Linked DNA regions of Homo sapiens: region 2 is linked to region 1. Evidence: fine-mapped expression QTL. A gene starts in region 1. The other region holds a variant in brackets. All regions are shown on one strand. Distances are between the middles of the regions.

Region 1 (11,320 bases):
CCACCCCGCGCATGCTCCCAAGAGCCCCAGACCACCCTTCTCCGGCTTCCGAGATACTTCATCCGTTGCTTGTCCTGGCCCACCGCTCAGTCCCCCAACTCTAGGACGACAGAGGTTAGGGATAAGGGGAATGAGACACGCGCCTTGGCTGCAGCATTCAAGGTGAAGCCAACTCAATAGTCAAAATAAAGACTTTTATACAATATTTTTACATTTTAAAATAAAATGTAAAGATAAAATTTCGTGAGGAGCTGTATTGGCATCTACAGCAAAAGGAAAAGTCAGTAATCCTGAGCCGTCTTTGTTGAAAATTTTTGTACTCTGTTCACTGTGGATTTTTTGGCATTGATTTTTATTTTAAATATTGCATTTAGATGTTTTAGTTTAATATTTATCATGACTACTGAGTGAATCCCGTACATTTTGTGCCATAGGTGAGTACCTCACTATGGTACAGCTCTACCCTGCTGCCATCTTCACTGTGGTAGTGGCAGAAGTCTAGGGGGATGTAAGTAACCACCTCCTCCGCAGGGTCTGTTAGGGGTTAGCAGGGAACTTCCAGAGGCTCAGGCACAGGAGCTTACATGGCCCCCAGGCTTGTCCCAGGACAAGGTCTCAGGGAAGGGCGGGGAAAAGAGATTTACACCAGCTTTCTCAATACTGACCCCTGCATTACTAAAAAGTTTATTAATCTTCTTTCTGTTAAGTCATAATTATAATAATAATTTCATTATTTTAATAATAATAAAATAAACCTCAATAACACCTAATATTTAATATGCTACTTATTAATAATACTTATTATTGGAGGCTTGGGACAATTAGTTCTCTGTGCCTCTGGTCTCAAAAGAAGTGATGCAACCAAGACTAGTTTTCTCAGTGCTACTTTACTGAGGACCTGGGTGATGTGAACCAAAGCTTTATCAGGAAGATGATTTGAGATGATTTGCAGAGTTGTCCTGTTTCTACAGGATTCACTGGAGTGAATTCCTATTATTGAGGTTTCTTATTTTGTCATTGTTAAAATAATGAAATTACTATTATAATCATGACTTAAAGAAGATTAATAAACTTTCTAGTAATGTGGGAGTCAGAAATAAGATTTCTATTTAATCGGGGCTAAATTCCTGAATTTACTATGGAAGCAAATAAATATCTGGCTTTCTTATTTCATATCTCTTTTAGTTGATGAGTATTTGGTTTTGCTTTTTTTCTCCTTGTTAACTTTAAAAAAAAAACCACACAATTTATAAATTTAGACAAGAAGAGACTTTCTTATACGAGGTTACAGCCTGCAAGGTGGGATCCTATGCTGGGAAGCACGCTGTATTATTCCGTTTTCATGCTGTCTATAAACACATGCCTGAGACTGGGCAATTTACAGAAGAAAGAGGCTTATTGGATTTACAGTTCCACATGGCTGGGGAGGCCTCACAATCATAGTGGAAGGCAAGGAGGAACAAGTCACATCTTACATGGAGGGCAATAGCAAAGAGAGAGCTTGTGCAGGGCAACTCCCATTTTTAAAACCATCAGATCTCGTGAGACTCATTCACTATCATCAGAACCGCAGGGGAAAGACCCGCCTCCATGATTCAGTCATCTCCCACTGGGTCCCTCCCACAAGATGTGGGAATTATGGGAGCTATAAGAAGAGATTTGGGTGTGGACATGGAGCCAAACCATATCACATGCCTTGGCCAAGATCAGAGACAGGCACTTTGAAGGAGGAGGGTTGGGGTAGGAGCTTTATGCTCAACAGGTTGGCTAAATATACATATTCAACAGGTGAGAGAAGAAGCTATGAATATTCATGAAAGTGGTCCTGATGCATGTGTATTTAACAAACATGCATGTTACATACAACTCATGTTCATTTTGGGGTGGTTGCAGCATTTAAATGTATTACAATTCAGCCTGATACGTCAAAAGGTCTTTTCAGGACATGAAGGCATGCAAGTGTGCAACCTCTGTAAGTCAGCCAGAACCATCCTATAGTCGGTAGTCTTATCAGGAGAAAGTTACTGAAATCAGTCTCTTGTCCAATCAAGCTGTAGTTATGGCTGGTGGAACAAGGGGTCGGTTAGTCAATATCTGTGATTTGGATGAGTTGTAATTGTTTTAATATTGCATATCTTCAGCCGGGCACGGTGGCTCATGCCTGTAATCCCAGCACTTTGGGAGGCCAAGGCGGGTGGATCATCTCAGGTCAGGAGTTCGAGACCGAGACCAGCCTGGCCAACATGACAAAACCCCATCTCTACTGAAAGTACAAAAATTAGCCGGGGGTGGTGGCATGCACCTGTAATCCCAGCTACCTGAGAGGCTGAGGCAGGAGAATCACTTGAGATCATGCCACTGCACTCCAGTCTGGGTGACAGAGAGGGACTTTGTTTCAAAAAAAAAATTTATATATATATATATGCACATATATACATATCTATATAGATACATAGATACATATACATATCTATATAGATACATAGATACGTATATATGTATATACATATATGTTTGTGTATATATATATATACAGAGAGAGAGAGAGAGAGAGAGAGAGTGAGAGAGAGAGAGAATCACTCTGTTGTCCAGGCTGGAGTGCAGTGGCACGATCTCGGCTCACTGCAACCTCCACCTCCCTGGTTCAAGCAATTCTCCTGCCTCAGCCTCCTGAGTAGCTGGGATTACAGGCACATGCTACCACACCTGGCTAATTTTTGTACTTTTTGTAGAGATGGGGTTTCATCACGTTGGCCAGGCTGGTCTCAAACTCCTGACCTCACATGATCCGCCCGCCTTGGCCTCCCAAAGTGCTGGGATTACAGGTGTGAGCCACTGTGCCCAAGCCATGTTCCCTATCTTCTCTGAGCAGGGCTGGGGAAAACAAAAACAAAAATATTGCTTATCTTCAAGCCAGTGCTTGTTTAGCTGCTGGAGAAAACAAAAACTCTGTGGCAGTTAGAACATAGCTTTTTTCTTTAAGTGTAAGGGTGCGTGACTTAACCCTTCCTGGCATGGCCTTAGATCCTGTTTATAATTTGTTATCGTATTGCCACAAAGAGTCTGTTCTGTCAGTCTTGTGATCTCTGTATTAACATTAAGGCTGCTCAGTTGTGTCTAAACTCTAAAAGGGAGAGGATGTAATGAGGCATATCTGATTTGCCATCCCATCATGGCTGGAAACTAAGTCTTTAAGGTTTTTCTGGGGTCTGCTTGGCCCAGAGGGGGTTCATTCAGTAGGTGGGGGGCATAGGATTTTATTTTTAGTTCACATTCACAAAAACAAAGGGCCAAAAAAGTCTTACTGTGTCACACAGGCTGGAGTGCAGTGGTGCAATCTTGGCTCATTGCAGCCTCCATCTCCCGGGTTCCAGCAATTCTCCTGCCTCAGCCTCCTGGGTAGCTGGGATTACAGGCACCCGCCACCACACCCAGCTAATTTTTGTATTTTTAGTAGAGAGAAGATTTTACCATGTTGGCCAGGCTGGTCTCGAACTCCTCACCTCAGGTAATCCACCCACTTGGGCCTCCCAAAGTGCTAGGATTACAGGCGTGAACTATCATGCCAGGGCTATATGTCTGTGCTTTCTAAACCCAATAAATGTGATGTAATATTAATGCTAACAGCACACGTGATGGGCCAGAAACATTTCTATAAGCCCAGCGGCTCTGGGCATAAATTTCTAGGGATGGTGAACCGAAGAAACAAAATTGTGTCATTGAAATCAGCTTTTCCCAACCACCAGTGTCTTCTCTCTCTCTCTCTTTCTCTCTCAGTGTTCACTTATTACATGGCTACTCTGTGCCAAGCACTGTTGCTAAACACATTATGTACAATTTCTCATTTCATTGGTACTGATTTTGACACTTACTCATCCACTGTCTTTTATCATGATGTGACCATTTCCTACAAAATGCCCTATGTAGCTTCCAACCAAAATACCACAAAGCACAACTTCAGCAGTCCTGCCTCTTGACCTTCTCCCAGGCTCTGCTCTCGCTCATCTGTTCCATCCTTTGCATTGGCAGAAGACCCATCTTTCTAAATGCTTACTCTCTTGGAGCATGTAATTTCTTTCCTAGGAATCACCATTCTCAGCTGCCTGACTCCAAGAATCGTTCTCAGTTTTATCTTCTGATGCTCCTAGACCTCAGCACCTTATTCCAGCCTAACACATCTGGCAACTCACTGTTCCCAGAGCTATTCAACATGCCTTCCACCTCAGGGCTTTACTTGGCCTGTAATGCCCTCTTCCTCTCTTTCTGCCAAAGTAGCTTAATGATTAGGAATATAATTCTGAAGTCCAACCATGGGCAAAGCCAGCTCCTCTGCTGACTTGGTGGATGACCTTGAACTAAATTTCTTCCCTTCTCAGAGCCTCCAATGGACAGTAAAACTAATAACAACACCTCCCTACCTTAGAGGTTGTTGTATAATTAAATGAGATAATATACATAAAGTGCATGGTGCAGTATCTGGTACATAGTAAAGATCAATAACCTGATGTTATCATTGTTGTCGTCACTATTATTATTTCAGACCTTGGTTTCTCCCCACTCTTTCATGAAGCCCTTATCTAACCACTCCAGGTCAAAATCATCTCTCTTTTCTTTGAATTAACTTACTTTTCCTATCACTGATTTGATGACTAGGATTTATTGCCTTAAGCTTTACATCATTCCTTTCCGATTTTATTTCCCCATCTCAGGTAAAAACTCCTGGAAGAAAAGATCCTGCAATTTGGCTTTTTGTGAGATGGAAAAGATTACACCTTGCCCTGCAAACTTCCCCCCTTTAAAGGCGAAGGTTTGTTAGGTTAGTTAGCCTGTGAGAAAACTGTGCGTTCTTAGCAATCAAAGGCCAGACATCTGGGGGTACAGGGGGGAGGAAGACTAGGATAAGAGACTCTAGACGGGGACAGAATTAAAAGGAAAAAAAAATTAAATAAGCCTCCGTCTCCTTTTATCTCCTAGCAGTAGGCAGTAATTTAATAAATAAAGGAGCCCCGTTAGCGTTTTCCCTGTCCATTCTTTCCCAGGCACGGTGACCTAGACAGCAGCAAAAAGCGAGTTAATAGGGAGGGGTTATGTAGGAAGCAAAAGTCAAGGAATGTGGCTACAGCTGATTACAGGAACTGAGAAAGTGGACCAAACAATATTGACTCCCAGCACGCCACCGCGATGTCCATCTTGGGGAATCCGTTGCTGGAAGGGACCCATCTCGCCCACCCTTAGGGGTCGAGGTGGGCGAAGGGGGAGGAGAGGGCTGGCGGGGCGGGGCGGGGTTGCTCCGCCCCCGGAGGCTGGGCTGTGACCAGCAGGCGGCTCCACAGAGCAGCGGGCGCGCTCATAAAGGGCACAGCCGAGGGTACGTGGATCGCGGTGCGGAGACTGAGGTTAGAAGGCACAGGTGGCGAGATGAGCCGGGTACCAGCGTTCCTGAGCGCGGCCGAGGTGGAGGAACACCTCCGCAGCTCCAGCCTCCTCATCCCGCCTCTAGAGACGGCCCTGGCCAACTTCTCCAGCGGTCCCGAAGGAGGGGTCATGCAGCCCGTGCGCACCGTGGTGCCGGTGACCAAGCACAGGGGGTGAGTGAGGAGGGTCGGGGTCAGGGGCAGGAGAAACTGGAAAGCGGGGAAAGGAGGAGCAGGAAGAGGAGGGGTGGGAGAAGGGAAGAGACGGCTTGCCTAACCGTTGCTAACAGCTGCCACTTTTAATAGGCGCTACCCGGTGTGCTAAGTGGGCGTTTTACAGGTGTTACCTTGTTTATTTCAGCACACTCTCCACCTAGGGAGGTATTGATACCACCATTTGATTGGTGGAAAACTGAGACTCAGAGAGGTTAAGTGACTTACCTAAGCTTACACAGCTACTAAGTGGCAGAGCTGGAAAGGTTTTCTGATCCAGAGCCAGACTTCTGAACATACTGTGCATAGTGTCTAAGGGAAGGGCAGAGGGATGCGGGGGCTGGAAGAGGGCCAGTGGGGTGGTGAGGAAGGAAAGAAAAAGGAAAGTATATGGATACTTTCTAAGAGACCCCAGCATTGATGGGAAGGGGCTGAAGCTGCTCCCTCTCTCCTTGTAGCTACCTGGGGGTCATGCCCGCCTACAGTGCTGCAGAGGATGCACTGACCACCAAGTTGGTCACCTTCTACGAGGACCGCGGCATCACCTCGGTCGTCCCTTCCCACCAGGCTACTGTGCTACTCTTTGAGCCCAGCAATGGCACCCTGCTGGCGGTGAGCAACTTCCTGTCCCGGGGTGGAATGGGGCCCCTGGGCCCAGATTGAAGCTCAAAAGTAAGTTCTCCGCAGCAGGGGGAGTCTTGATTGTGACTACGCGTGCCCCTCTGCAAGTGACTGGATACCAGCAACAGTGAAGGTTATCTGTGTCCATGTATCTATTTCTAGGACTGCCTGAGGATGCATAACACGGCACCAGCGCCCACTGCTGCCTCAAGCATGTGACAGTGTGGAAATAATAATCTTGTTGTCATTCTTGCATATGTCCTTGTCCTATACTCAGTTGCCCCAAATACGCAGCTTGAATGAACCCATTAGCCAAGGGAAGACTTACTTACTGAATCCTTGTCGACATGGAAAAGAAGGGGTGTTCTATAATCCCTGGGAGTCTTCAGAGGGGTATACGGTGTGACCTGTTTTAATATCTAATCATAGTTTCAAAAGGTAGCAGTAGCTTGTGTTTATGGAGTACTTTTTATAATGCATCAGGCACTTTTCTAAACATTTCACATTTATTAATCCTCTTAATACTTAAAACTATTCTATGATATGGGTAATATGATTACTCCCACTTTATAGATGAGGAAACCGAGTCAGAGCAACTATGTTCAACTTACCGAGGTTTATGTAACCAACAATTAGCATGGTTGGACTTCAGAGCTGCTCAGTCTAAGTCCACGGTCCATAGGTCCAGACTCTTCTAAGACCACCGCCATTTTAACTGCTACATATTGGGCACTTATGTGCCAAGAAGGAGACGCTGATCACATTCAATTCTGCAAAATTCCTCTATGGGTGTTTTTATTAACTCCCCTTCCCCCCAATTTCTGTTGAGGTCCTTGAGGCTCAGGTTAGTAGAGTCACTTTGCTTGAGGTCACACATCTGGTTAGTGAAAGACTCAAGAATCACTCCCAGGTGTGACAGTTAACTCTTAAGGTCTGTGCGCTCCAAGCTGGGTCTTACAATGTCCCTCCTTTTCCCCTGAATTTCTGGATCGCCAAATAATCTGGCCGTTTAACACTCCTTTGAGAATATCTAGCTTTCCCCAACTTACACTCATCCAACCGAGATGGCATTCATACTACCTGCCAACAGCGGTTCCCTAGGGGGGTAGAACCCAAGGCTTTGAAACTAGATGACAGCTGAATCTGCTCAGTGACTTCGTGATTCACTTCCTCATCTGTAAAATGAGGTTGATGATGCCTATTTTTTGATGATCAGCTGAGATGAATAACAGGGAGAGGAGTGCAGAGGATGGTTTTTACTAGCGAGGCATAATTTTCAACCTTCGCTGTGTATCGGAATCACCTGGGCTGTCTGGGTCTCACTCCTGGAAGAGATACAGACTGGGTTAATCTAAGGGTGGTATCTGAGCATCTTCACGAAGCTTTCCACATGTGCAGCAGGAACGGAGAGCCACTAAGAGTTTCATGGCCGTTGTCCAGATGTCAATTGGCAACCTTCTCTCTCTAGTTCCTTCTTAATTTGGTGTTTTGAGAATCCTAGGGCAAGAAAAGAAAATGGGCAGTTCTTGAGGGCTCACCATGTGCTAGATGTTTCCAGATATGCCAGTGCATTTAATCCTCACAATAACCCTCTGAATGGCTGGCATTATCTTTTTTACAGGTGAGGAAACCAGTGCTTAAAGATTAAAGTGTTTGTTCAAAGTTGCATATCTCGTAAGTGGAGGAATCGGATCCAGGTCTGACGCCAAACCCATGCTGTTTGTAGGATGCTATAAAACTTCCTAAGCTAATATTTTAGAACTGTTTCTTCTAATTTATGCAGTGGACAGGGGTTCCCCTTGCTCACTGTCTCTCTTTTCCTCCAAGGTCATGGATGGAAATGTCATAACTGCAAAGAGAACAGCTGCAGTTTCTGCCATTGCCACCAAGGTAAGATGAATGGCTGGCTGTACCATTAAGGTGAGCTGTCAAGTGGGGTCTGGTGTCTCAATCTTGAGAGACTAAAGGAGAAGTGGGGAACTTATTTTGGTTTCCTGTTGGACATAGCTGGAACTCCAGATGTCAGATATATCAGTAATTCACGAAATTATTAGCTACCAATTAGTGTGCATGACCAGATTTCAAGTACCTTATGTGCATAATTCTCAATCTTCCCATCAGTCTTGAAGAATCGAAATGAGAAATTCTCTCCACCTTCCAGGTCAAGGAATATGGCTCAGAGAGCTTCTGTGAATTGCCCAGGATCACACAGCTAATAAGTGCTAGAGTAAGAATTTAATACTTGACCTCTCTGGCTTCCAGGACTGGCTTCTTGTCCCTGTACCACATTGCCCCTGGTAAGACAGTATAATTGTCCCATAGACCAAAGCTAGTACTACACAAGAGGCTGAGTGAACTGAACATATCCAAGCCAGATCCCTGTATTCATTCGACAAGTATTGACTGGGCTTCTATCATGTGTCAGGCACTGTTCTAAATGTTAGGGAAATGGCAGTGAGAAAAACAGAGGGGCACACACAGGGGAGGTAGACAATACCAATAAAAAGGAAAACACAGGCTGGGTACAGTGGCTCACGCCTGTAATCCCAACATTTTGGGAGGCTGAGGCAGGCGTATCACTTGAGCTCAGGAGTTGGAGACCAGCCTGGTCAACATGGTGAAACCTCGTCTCTTGTAAAAACACAAAAATTAGCTGGTCGTGGTGGTGGGCGCCTATAATCTCAGCTACCCGGGAGAGTGAGGCAGGAGAAACGTTTGAACTCAGGAGGCAGAGGTTGCAATGAGCCCAGATCGAGCCACTGCACTCTAGCCTGGGCAAAAGAGTGAGTGTCTTAAAAAACAAAACAAAAAGGAAACAAAACAAAACAAACAAAAACATCTGTTGAGTTTAATAATGTGTTAAATAGTAATAAATAATATGTAATTAAATAATTAGTACATATTAATAAATGATTAATAGCGTGCTTAGAATTTGCTAAAAAATAAAACCAACAATAATCCAAAAAGCCACATAACATGTTAGGTGAAGATAAAGCAGAAGTGAGAGTATTGGAGAAGCTGTCACATTTTACATTATCCAAGAAAGGCCTCCCTGAGAAGGTGACATTTGAGTCAAAGCTGAAAGCAGTGAGTTAGCGAACCATGCAAAAACACGGAGGGGCACTCCAGGCAGAGGGAACAGTAAGCAATGGGGGTGATGATGTTCCCAAGCAATGTCAAGGCATCCTATAAGAAAAACAGCATTTTTAAAAGTTAGAGTTAAGAGGATGAGGCTTAGGAAACAGGGTGTCTGTGGGAACGATTGGAGTCTGGAGTCTTTCACATTAAATGTGGAAGTACAAGGTCTTGGGACACTGGTTTTCCTAAGTTATTATAAAGGAAACGTGGTAACCCAGGGAAAGTTGCAGCAGCAAAGACCAGGTGTTCAGGTTGCATGTCGAGGTTTTCTAGATACCTGCTGGGGAGGGAAGAATGGGAGGATTAATCTGGTAATTGTATGCGAAGGGAGTAGACCAACAGCACCCACCTCAATGAACTGGTTTTTAGTTATATCCAGACCTGACTCAACTGAAGTAATCAAGGACTCCTTGCTATGTTTGCTGGTAATTTGGGAACAGAATGAATCTTGTATTACTGTCATTTGCAAAGAGCTTTAGTCTTTTTCAAACTCATTTCCAGCCCCTTGTCTGGACTACGAGTTTCTGTGAGGAAGGCAGAGAAAGTATTAATGGCCTCATTTTACGCATAAAAGAATAGAAACTTGGGTTTCCTGAAGTCATACAACCAGGTTCCTGCGGGTCCTTTTGAGGCCACATGGTCTTGTCCCAGATAAGAAGTTTCCAACAGAAGCAAGCTATGCAGCAGCATTAGCTAGGGAAGTTTTTAAAAACTCAAATTCCCATGCCTACTGAATCAAAATCACAGAGTGAGGATCAACCAGGTCTGGAAACCACACTTTTGTAGACCCAGCCTGCAATAACACTGCTTTGTTGCATTAATAAAAATCTGTGCTCCCAGAAGAATCAAGAAGCCTTGGGTTGACACTTCAAAGTTTAGACACTTCAAAGTTTAGGCTGAAACTTCACAGCTTTATTTCCAGGGGCTCAGATGAACTGTTTCAATAAGGAACAAAGGGTCTATTTTACTTGTTGCCTTGAGAGTAGAATATTTTCTTGTCCATCATTTCTCTTCTATTTAGGGCTCTTGTTGGGGAGAATAAGTATACGGAGCTCTAGGGTCTGATGAACATAATACATTTTTTGTGCTTGGGTCTCACATAAGCTTCATTGAAGCCTCTGATATGTTTTCTCAAGGTGATAGTATATATTAGGGTTTAGCACTAACATACATTTATTCAACAAATATTTGAGTGTCCACCAAATGCAAGGTTCTGCGCTCAGCATGGGGTAAGCAAAACCAGATACAGTACTTGCCCTCATGTAGTACAGGGTCCAGTGGGGGAGGCAAGATATAGTCCAAAGATCACATCAATAGGCTGGGCGCAGTGGCTCACGCCTGCAATCCCAGCACTTTGGGAGGCTGAGGCAGGCAGATTACCTGAGGTCAGGAGTTCAAGACCAGCCTGACCAACATGGAAAAACCCCATCTGTACTAAAAAAAAAAAAAAAAAAAAAAAAAAAAAAATTAGCTGGGCATGGTGGCAGGTGCCTGTAATCCCAGCTACTTGGGAGGCTGAGGCAAGGGAATTGCTTGAATCCTGGAGGCGGAGGTTACAGTGAGCCAAGATCACACCACTGCACTCCAGCCTGGACAACGAGTGAGACTCAGTCTCCAAAAAAAAAAAAAAAATTCACACCAATAAATATGAAACTACAACGCTGACAAGTGCTGTAAGAGTGTAAAGCAGTATGTCTTGATCTAGCCTGTGGCTGTGTCTCTGTAGGGGATATTTGAGCTGAGATTGAAGGATAATCAGTTACTTGTGAGGGGGAGAGGGGACAAAGCAGCCTAGCATCGTATGGCAAGGAATTAATTCATGCAAAGGCCCTGTGGTTGAAGGAAGTACATGAGCTTGGGAAGCTGCAAGGAAGCCAGTATGGCTGGAAGACAGGAAGTGCAGGGGAACATGGCATGGTGGTATGAGAGACAGC
Region 2 (11,320 bases), 850 kb after region 1:
AGGCGTGCGCCACCATGCCTGGCTGATTTTTGTATTTTTGGTAGAAACGGGGTTTCACTATGCTGACCAGGCTGGTGTTGAACTCCTGACCTCAGGTGATCCACCTGCCTCGGCCTCTGAAAGTGCTGAGATTACAGATGTGAGCCACTGCACCCGGCTGCAGTTTGACCTTCAGAAGCTCCTTTCCTTTACTGTACCTCGATTTTCACCTCATTAAAACAACAGTGCTGCCCTCATGTCATGTTTACGCTTTCAGACACACCCACATTTAAATCCCATGTCCTGCCTGTACTATTTGCATGATGCTGGATAAGTCACTTCCCCTTTGTAGTAGCTTCCTTATCAATAATAGTCTTCCTTATCAATAACAGAACTTTATTAATAATAGTAGCAACCTACCTCATGCAGTCATTGTAAGGATTAAACAAATAGATATTTACAAAGTGTGGTGCACAATGCTTAGCACACAGTCACTGTCATGAGAACGGCTGTTCCCCGTCTCTTACCAAATAGCAATTGAAGAAACAGAAGGGCCGAGTGGGTCTGATACGGACGGCAACATTCCCCTCTTCTCCAGGAGGCAGGACGTTGCCCTCATCATCCACAATCTGGTAAGGAAATCATCACAGAGGTGCATACGTGAGTGTCTACACCCTGGGCCTCTCCCAGCAGCCCAGCAGCCCGTGCCAACCAGGCCTGTGTGTCTTTCTCCTCTCCATGCCAGGCCTTGCCAGAAGTTGGGGGAGGCTGCTACCTGCACATCGTAGGGTGGGGACGCCTTCCCCATGGATCCAGACTTGATTTTCATGCCTTTTGGATTGGCACAGATGACAACCTGGGGAGAACGCAGTACAGATAAAGAAGAGCCTTTCCACTTAGCTTCTTTCCTGGGCCATGCCTTTCTCTCACCCTGCCTGATAACTCTTTCTCTCATCCTCTTTTTTCTCCTCCCTCACTTTCTTCTTTCTTTCCCTTCTCCTCTCTCCATTTCTCTCCATTCTTCCTCCCTTCTTTCTTTTCTTTTTTCTTCCTTGCTCACTCCTTCCTTTCCTCTTTCTTTCCTTTCTTTCCCCTTTCCTGTTTTCTTCCTTCCCTCCTTCATTTTCTTTCCTCCTTTTTTTCATTCTTTTCCCCGTTATTTCATTCTCCATTTTCCTCTCTCCTCCCTTCTTCTTTGTTCCCTATTTCCTTCCTTCCATTCATCTTTTTCCCTTCCTTTCCTCCTTCTTTTCCTTTCTCTTTCCTTTATTTCCTCCCTCCCTTCCTTCTTCATTTTCTTCCTATTTTCTTCCCTCTTTCTTGCCTGTCTTTCTTCTTTTCTTTCCATAGTTAACAAACAATTATGGGGCACTCCAGTGGGCACTCAAACATAAAGAACTTAACCCATCTCTAAGCCAAAAGACTCAGTTGATCCCCAGATCTCTTCCTAGATGACTATAGAGGACGCTGCTTAGAATCTTGGACTCTGAACAGTGGCAGATGTAGACTGTCTTGGTGGAGACAAACAATGCCTTCAGCAGTGAGGGCTGGTTTGCTGGTCATGGTATAATTGTAAAAGTACTTTAAATTACCTTTTTTTAATTTATAAGTAGTGTGTGTGTGTGTGTGTGTGTGTGTGTGTGTGTGTATTTCAATAGCTTTTTGGGTTCGAGCGTTTTTTTGTAACATGGATGAATTCTATAGTGGTGAATCCTGAGATTTTAGTGCATCTGTAAGCTGAGTAGTGTACATTATACCCAATACGTAGTTTTTTTACCTTCACGCCCCTCCTCTCACCTTCTTCCTTCTGAGTCTCCAAAGTCTTTTATACCACTCTGTATGTCTTTGCATCCTCATAGCTTAGCTCCCACTTATAAGTGAGAACATATGGAAATCAAAAGGGAAGGAAAGCTGATGGAATTTTGTTATCAGCTTCTCCCCTGGGGGAAGGGTGGTCCCTGAGAAGCTTCAGGGAGGTGACAGCCGGAGAGGCAGGAAGCTCTCGAGGGGACCTGGGGGGTAGGGACCTGGCCCCTCCAGCACTCACCGTTTCAGACTGGCCATAGCCTTCGTACAGCTCCACACCAGTCTGGTGTTTCCACTTCTCCCTCACGTCAGGGTTGAGGGCCTCTCCTCCGGTCAGACAGTGCCTCAGGCTCTGAAACTGGTACCTTTCTCAGACAGGAAAACAAGGCCACCTATGTCAGGATCTTCATATCACCCCGCCCTCTGGTGCCACTGCCCAGATGCAAACACCACAGGCACTAGAGGGTAGATGCCCCTGCTTTTTAATCTTCTCTAAGTGAGTCCACCCACTGGCTTTGCAACCATGCTCCTCATGGACAGATAATTTTTAAAAGATCCATCCTATCTGAGTTTGAGATAAAATCAGAAGCTCATATAATAGGTTTTGGCATAATATGGTGAGTTCCAGGTAACTTGGCCAAAATAATTTAGTTGGAAAAAAACTGATAATAAATTGGTTAGGACAGTAATCTGATTGAAAAGGATAGATGAATTAGAAATTGAAAAGATAGGCCAGGCACCATGGCTCACACCTGTAGTCCCAGCACTTTGGGAGGCCTAGGTGGGCAGATTGCTTGATCTCAGGAGTTGAAGACCAGCCTGGTCAACGTGGTAAAACCCCGTCTCTACCGAAAAATACTAAAAATTAGCTGGGTATGGTGGCACATGCCTGTAGTCCCAGCTACTTGGAATGTTGAAGTGGGAGGAAAGCTGGAACCTGGGAGGCAGATGTTGCAGTGAGCTGAGATCATGCCACTGCACTCCAGCCTGGGCAACAGAGCAAGACTCTGTCTCTAAAATAAATAAATAAATAAAAATAAAAGAAAAAGGAAAAGAAAGGAAAGAAAAGAAAATGGAAAAGATAAAAATTAGACCCCTAAGAATCCCAAAAATTCCTACAGATATTAATTATGTTGCAAAATGCCCTCTCTGTTCAACAAATCATCCAAATTATAAAAAAGAACAGTGACTGCAAGTACATTTTTAATCTTGGAGGAGAGGGGAGATCAAATTGGCTTGATTAAGTTACTTATTATTACCAAAGAGCATTCAACGACATTGTTCTTAACGAGGTACTTGGAGCTTGCTTTCAGCCAAAATCATCATGTGGAGATGCACACATCAGATCAATGAATGGGATGATTTTCTTACATTGGAGAAGAATTCACTTTTAGAAGCATGTAAGAACTCCCTTTTTTGGACACTTGGTGGGTAGATTCATGTGATTAGGAAAGATGAGAGGACGACTCCTCATGACTTACGGGAGGACAAAAGAGGGAGAACAGGTCAGGGTTGGTGGATACTGAAGGACAGTGGGCCTCTCTCCATATACCCCAGCAACCAGCCCTGTTCTGCTAGAAGATGTTGCTTTGGCTTCACCCAGGATGGAGCCATCATCAGTGCCTTGTCCCTTTCTCTTGGGTGCCCAATGGCATGTGCTCAGAGAACAGTTGGCTGGGGTTAGTCTGAGGCTGAGAGTTGGGGCATCTACTGCGGTGCGGGCTTGTTAGTTTCACCACACCTGAGGGCCCTGGCCACAGACCCCACTCCACAGGTGGCTAACAATTTTCCAATCATTTCTCTCGCCTCACAGAAGTAGCAGACACACTGCTGACAGAATAGCCCATGGGTGTATGGTGTGAGGAGAAGCCTATCTCAGGTGCTAAAATTTCAGTCTGCCTTAAATCTATTTAGTTCCATCTGGATGCAAATTTTGGGGGGCCAGAAGCTTGTTCTTGAGGGGCATCTGTGAGATTTACAGGTATGTTGACTTGTCAATGTGTACGTGTATAAATGTGTGTGTGAGAGAGAGACAAAGAGAGAGGCAGAAAAATATATAGAGGGAGAGACAGAGAAAGAAAGAGAGTTGGAATGAGAGGGTAGTTGTGTGTGTGGATACCCATGCTATATATTCACATACTTAGGCCCTCAAAGCACGAAATAGACGGGCTGTACCTGGTCAGATCCTCCTGCACAAGCAGCCGAAAGATGGTTGGGACACAGCAGAGGGTGGTTATCGGGAATTTGGAGAGAGTCTAAACAAAAACAAAGGGTGAAAGATGTCCTTAGAATCATTGGGGTGGGACCATGAAGATGGAGCCAAATGCATCTTTATAGTCTCAGTACCAAAGCAGAGAAGCTGAAAACTATGTGTGGAATCCAGCAGCCAAGATGGTGTCCAGTGACTCCTACTTCCTGGCATGTGCACCTTTGGAGGATCCCCTCTCACCTCATACCAAAGTGGGTCTGTGACAGCAATGGCATACTGCCAAGGTGATGAATACCACTTTCAAGATTCGGTTATACAAAGACTATGGCTTCTGTCTTGGATATTCTTTCTCTCTGCCTTTCTTGGATCCCTTGTTCTGGGGGAAGCAAGCCACCATGTTTTGAGTATGCTCAAGCCATCCTACGGACAGGTGCACACAGTGAGAAACTGGAGACTAGCAAACACCCAGTGAGAAATTGAAGTCTACTAAAAACCACCAGTGAGGTTTTTGTTTTGTTTTTTGTTTGGTTTTTTGAGATGGAGTCTCACTCTGTCACCCAGGCTGGAGTGCAGTGGCAAGATCTCAGCTCACTGCAACCTCTGCCTCCCGGGTTCAAGCAATTCTCTGCCTCAGACCCCTGAGTAGCTGGGATTACAGGTGCCCACCACCAGGCCCGGCTAATTTTTGTATTTTTAGTAGAAACGGGGTTTCACCATCCTGGCCAGGCTGGTCTTTAACTCCTGACCTCATGATTCACCCGCCTTGGCCTCCCAAAGTGCTGGGATTACAGGTATGAACCACTGTGCCCGGCCACCAGTGAACTTTTAAGCAATTTTCCAGCTTCAGTCAATCCTTAAGATGATTGCAGTCCTAGCAAATATCTTCTTTAAAATTATTGTGGCAAAATACACACAACATAGGATTTGCCCATTGGAACGGTTTTTAAGTGTATAGTCCAGTGGGATTAAACATTTCCAGAGTGTTGTGCAACCATCGCTACCATCCACCTCCAGAACTATTTTTATCTTCTCAAACTTAAACTCTGTACCCATTACACAATAATTTCCCATTAATCTCTCCCCTAACTCCTGGTAAACACCATTGTACTTTCTGTCTCTATGAATTTGACTACTCTTGGAATCTCATGTAAGTGGAATCATACAGTATTTGTCCTTGTATGACTGGCATGTTTCACTTAGCATAATGTCCTCAAGGGTTATCCACGTTATATCATACAACAAGATGTCCTTCCTTTTTAAGGCTGGGTAATATTCCATTGTACATATACACCACATTTTGTTTATTCATTCATCTGTGGATGGACACTTGTGTTGCTTTCACCTTTTAGTTATTGTTAATGCTGCTATGAACATGAGCATACCTTGCTGACCTCTTGATTGCAACCTCATGAGAGACCCTGCTCCAAAAACCCCTCATTAAGCTACCTCCAGCTTCCTGACCATCAGAAACTGTGAGATAAATGCTTGTGTTTTAAAGTGCTAAGTTTCGGTATAATTTATTACATAGCAATAGATAATGAAAACACTATATCAGAGCTGGGGACAGTGCAAGGAGAAGGTCCATACATTGGCTGATCAAGCACTACATGGATAATGATGGTGATGAGTTTGATCATGATGATAACAATCAATATGGGTTAAGAATCTACTATATTTGGTCCACCATGTGATACCAGCTTACTCCTGCAAGAATGGCCATAATCAAAATATCAAAAAATAATAGATGTTGGCATGGATGCAGTGAACAAGGAACACTTCTACATTGCTGGTAGGAATGTAAACTAGTACAACCACTGTGGAAAACAGTGTGGAGATTCCTTAAAGAACTAAAAGTAGAACTACCATTTGATCCAGCAATCCCACTTCTGGGCATCTATCCAGAAGAAAAGAAGTCATATGAAAAAGATACTTGCACATACATGTTTATAGCAGCACAGTTTGCAATTGCAAAAATGTGGAACAAACCCAAATGCCCATAAATCAACAGGTGGGCAAAGAAAGTGTGGTATATAAATATATATAATGGAATACAACTCAGCCATAAAAAGGAATGAATTAATGGCATTCGCAGGGACCTGGATGAGATTGTAGACTATTATTCTAAGTAAAGTAACTCAGAAATGGAAAACCAAATATTTTATGTTCTCCCTCATAAGTGGGAGCTAAGCTATGAGGATGCAAAGGTGTAAGAATGGCACAATGGACTTTGGGGACTTGGGGAAAATGGTGGGAAGGGGGTGAGGGATAAAAGACTACAAATTGG[G/A]TGCAGTGTATACTGCTCAGGTGATGGGTGCACCAAAATCTTACAATCACCACTAAAGAACTTACTCATGTAATCAAACACCACCTGTTCCCCAATAACCTATGAAAATAATTTTTTTTTAAAAAAAGAATCTACTATGTTTTGAAGCAACCTAAGTGTCCATCAACAGATGAATGGAAAAAGAAGATGTACATATACACAATGGATCCATAAAAAAGAATGAGGTCCTGTCATTTGCTGCAACATGGATGGAACTGGAGATCATTATGTTAAGTGAAATAAGCCAGGCACATAAAGACTAACTTCACATATTCTCACTTATTTGTGAGATTTAAAAGTCAAAACAATTGAACTCATGGAAATAGAGATTAGAAGGATGATTACCAGAGGCTGGGAAGGGTAGTCGGGGGCTGGGAGAAAGGTGGGGATGGTTAGTTGGTACCAAAATAATAGAATGAATGAATAAGACCTGTTATTTTAAAGCACATCAGGGTGACTATAGTCAATAAAAACTTAATTGTACATTTTAAAATAACTGAAAGAGTATAATTAGATTGTAACACAAAAGATAAATGCTTTGAGGGTATGGATACCCCATTCTCTATGATGTGATTTTCACGCATTGCATGCCTACATCAAAACATCTCATGTACCCCATAAATATATACACCTACTATGTATCCACAAAAATTAAAAATTATTTCAAAAAAGAACCTATGATGTGCTGGCCCCTTTGCCTTGTATCATTTCATTCTCGCAGCAAATCTATAGAGAAATGTATCCCTTTCTTACAGATGAGGCTGAAACTGCAGCTCAGGAGATTAAGCAGCTTCCCCAAGGCCACACAGCTAGCGAATCAAAGGTGTAGGATCAGAGTCCAGGTCTGACTCTTTGACTGATGGCACAGCCTATGCAGTTAGCTACCATGTGATACAGCTTATCTCAGTACAAATAATATGAGCAGAAGTGTCCTCTGACATTTTAAGGAATGACAGGATGTGGGGGGTGGAAGAAAGGTGACCTGTGTCTTGACTGGGGCCACCAATCTCCTCCCTCCCCATGAGAAGACCCTGAGAGGCTGAGCAGGAGTCACCAGGACTCTCTAGTTGGGCCAACTACTCATGTTAAGAACCATGGACAGTAGCATTTGGAGTTGAGGCATAGACTGATTTTGCCTAAGGGTTTGACAAATACCTAGGGTTTTGGCAGGAGCATAGGGAAGAAAGTGGTGGAAACAAGGGCACCCCATGCAAAAGAAATAGCAACAAAATGGTCTTACATCTAGGAATGTAGCTAGAGCATAGGCAATGATTGAAGGGAACCAGGTGGTCAGGAACCAGATTATGGAAGGCCAGGGAGCCACACCAAAGAAGCCTTAAATTCACTGATTTATGTGTTTTCTCCTGCAGTCTGAAATCTATATCCCACTCATCTCATTTGTACCCAACACATATGGGGTATTGTTGGTTTTTCCTCTTACATTCAGGATAACTTTGGCATCAACTCGGGGCAGCTCATGCACAAAAATGCAAGATCCATTAGGCCAGGCAGAGAAGAGAGTCCAGGCTGCCTTCACCCAGCCAGTGTCAGTCGTGTTCCAGAAGATGTCAGATTCGGTCAAGGCCACCCACCGTCTGCCAAAAATTAGAGAACGTCAGTAACCTTGGCAATGACTCTACCTTTAAAAAGGATTGTATTATCTATATCACCACATTTGGAGCCCTGCTCAGTGGGTACTCACTTATACTTGTGAAACCTGAACAAGACCATCAAGTCAACTATTGTCTCAACCAGCATCTTCCATGTACCTATGCCCTAGGCTAAGAATACAGAAGCAAAAAGAGTTTCCAGAAAGTTCACAGTCCAGTGGATGTGATATATAAGGGGAAAAAATTAACCTCAATACTCTGTGCTAAGGTCACTTTATTTAGCCAACATTTATTTAGCATTTAGTCTGGACTTAGCACTAGGGATCTAGAAATGAACGATTAGTCTTGCTTTGAGGGCCTTATAGGAAGCCCCTGGAGAGCATGTTTTAATAGAGCTAAACACAAAGCCTTGTGCAATTATAGAGAATAGGCACCTAACCCAGAGCAATGATGGACATGGGTTTCTGAGAAATGCTCTGGTAGAGGAAGTGACACTTGAGTTAGACATAAAGAATAAATAGGGATTATATAGGTGAGGCAGAGAAGCAGGAGCATCCCAGGAATGGGAAACAGTGTCTGCAAACATGGAAGACATAAAAAGCGGTCATGCACTTGAATCCTGGGACACGCGCACTCCTGGTTCTCCCCATTTCATTGGCTGTTCCCTTCTCAGTCTCCTCTGCTGAGTCCTCCTGGTCTTCCCCTTCAGTGCAGAAATGCCTCGGGCACTCAGTCCTGAGACCCATTCTCTTTTCAGTTTATATTACACTTTGCTGATCTCATCCCATCTCATGGTATGAAATACCATCTTTACACTGATAAGTTCAGCATGAATCTTTCTCATTAACTTCAGACATGTGTATCCAAATGCCCACTCAACATCTCCACTTTTAACAAGGAGATGGAGATTTCTAAGAAGACTCTCAAATTGACAACTCCATAAACAAACTGTTTTCTTGCCACCAGACAGCTCATCCCACAGTTCTTCCCCCATCATTTAGTGCTTCCAGTTGTTCAGGCCATTCCTCTTAGAGCTCTCCTTGACTCCTCCTTCTCATTCCACACTGATTCTGTCAGCAAGCCTTATTGGGTCTAGGTTGAAAATACATTCAGAATCTCATCTCTTCTCCCACTACTGCTCCCCGGGCAAGCTACCATGCTTGCCTCTTAATGCACTGGTCATCTTCTTTACCTGTTTCCCCTACAGTTACATTGTCAACCCAACATCCTGAGTGAGCCTTTAAAAAACATATTAGATTATGTCACTCCTCTGCTCAAAATACCCAATGCTTCTCAAAAAAAATTAAACATAGAATTACCATATGATCCAGCAATTTCATTTCTGCATGTATATCCAAAAGAAGTAAAAGCAGAGACTCTAACAGATACTCACATGCCAGTGTTTATAGCAACATTATTGACAATAGCCAAAATGTGGAAGCTACCCAAGTGTCTATCAACAGGTGAATGGATTATTTAAAATGTGGTCGAGGCCAGGTGCAGTGGCTCATGCCTGTAATCCCAGCACTTTGAGAGGCCAAGGCGTGAGGATCATGAGGTCAGGAGTTCGAGACCAGCCTGGCCAACATGGTGAAACCCGGTCTCTACTAAAAATACAAAAATTAGCTGGGTGTGGTGGCGGGCACCTGTAACCCCAGCTATCTGGGAGGCTGAGGCAGGAGAATTGCTTGAAACTGGAAGGCAGAGGTTGCAGTGAGTGGAGATCGCACCACTGCACACCAGCCTGGGCAAAAGAGCAAAACTCTGTCTCAAAAAAATAAAAATAAAATAAAAAATAAAAATAAATAAAATGTGGTCTATCCATACAATGGAATATTTTTCAGTCTTAAAAGGGAAGGAAATTTTGACACATGCTATGACACGGATGAACCTTGAGGACATTATGCTAAGTGAAAGAAGCCAAATTGCAAAACAAAAGGACAGACTGCATGATGCCAGTTACACGAAATACCTAGAGTATCAAATTCACAGAGATGAAAAGTAAAATAGAGGTTACCAGGGGTGAGGGGAGAGGGTAATGGGGTGTTATTGGGTAATGGGGGCACAGTTCTCATTTGGAAAGATAAAGTAAATTCTGGAAATGGATGGTGATTGTGGTTGCACAACAATGTGAATGTATTTAATGACATTAAACTGTACACTTAAAATGGTTAAAAGGGTACATTTATGATATATGTATATATATGTTTATATGTGTATGTATGTATATATATGTGTGTGTGTATATATATATATATATATATATATATATATATATATATATAGCCACGATTTAAAAAGAAACCTCCCATGGCTTTTCACCTCACTCAGAGTAAAATCCAGAACCATCAAGATCCTTCCTAAGCTGCTCCTATTGGCTTCTCAGTAATTCTGTTGGCTCTCTGACCTCCGTTCCTGACACCTTTCCCCTCACACCACCCCCTCCAGACCACTCCCCACTTTCTGTTCTTGGATCCTCTAGACAAGCTGCTCTGGTACCTTCCGCTGGCCACAAAACCCAGTCCGTAGCTGCTCTGGGAGTGCTCGACCATCTTGGGGGCCCCGGTGGTTCCGCTGGTAAAGTAGATGGCCAGCGGGTCTCGACTCTTTGTCCTCATGCAGTTGTGCTCTGTAGAAGCCTCCCTGTAAAACGTAAATACACTAGGTGGCACTACCACGGTAAAAACAGTTAGTAGCACCAATAATATGTGTAACAACAATATGACTACCGTTTCATAAATACCACATGTGAGGTGCTGTGCTGAAAGCTCTGGCTTGGGTAATCTGCAACCACCTCATGGGGTAGGTACTATCATTATAACCCTTTTGCAGACCAGGAAACTGAGGCTCAAAATAGATAAATAATTCACGCAAAAGAGTCCATGCTTTCTTACCAAGGTATGAGGACTTTCTGGTAGAACACACACATGTCCATGTCTATAATTCTGCACATTTAGGCACAGCTTCCACCCCCATCCCAATTTCTAATAATTTAGAACTCTTTTCTAAAGGTTTCCCCCAATATGGGGTTTTGAGATCTAGGTAATTCCCAAAGTTCTGTGATCTGGATGATCAGCTAATCCACGGGCTCTCATCCCTGGCTGCACTGTGAAGTCCCCTGGTAAATTTTTGGAAGAAACTTGTCTGTATCCACCCTGAACAAAATAAAATCAGAATCTTTAATGTTTTCTTAAATGCTTCTCAGTAATTCTAGTAACAGCCAAAATTGAGAACCACTGATCTAGGCCCACCTGACAGCTCTCAAAATCATATGAGCCGATTTTTTTTTGTTTTGTTTTTGAGATGGTGTTTCGCTTTTGTTGCCCAGGCTGGAGTGCAATGGCGGGATCTTGGCTCACTGCAACCTCTGCCTCCCGGGTTCAAGTGATTCTC

Evidence for each region. PIP is the estimated chance that this variant, and not a neighbour inherited with it, causes the effect.
Region 2: its variant is fine-mapped to the expression of CRYM in caudate (GTEx, PIP 0.98).

Annotation. Positions count from the first base shown.
Region 1 is chr16:21,272,350-21,283,669 of GRCh38, reverse strand. CRYM (crystallin mu) reads left to right here and starts at 5,380. Exons shown (of 8, transcript NM_001376256.1): 1 at 5,380-5,588; 2 at 6,086-6,239; 3 at 8,076-8,138. The coding sequence starts at 5,419. RefSeq lists an enhancer at 5,379-5,588.
Region 2 is chr16:20,420,508-20,431,827 of GRCh38, reverse strand. ACSM5 (acyl-CoA synthetase medium chain family member 5) reads right to left here. Exons shown (of 14, transcript NM_017888.3): 5 at 10,427-10,570; 6 at 7,759-7,912; 7 at 3,961-4,040; 8 at 2,027-2,150; 9 at 755-835; 10 at 507-608. Among named protein-coding and RNA genes, the nearest start is that of ACSM5, 17 kb to the right of the region's middle. The variant G/A (reference allele first, on the strand shown) is at 6,279.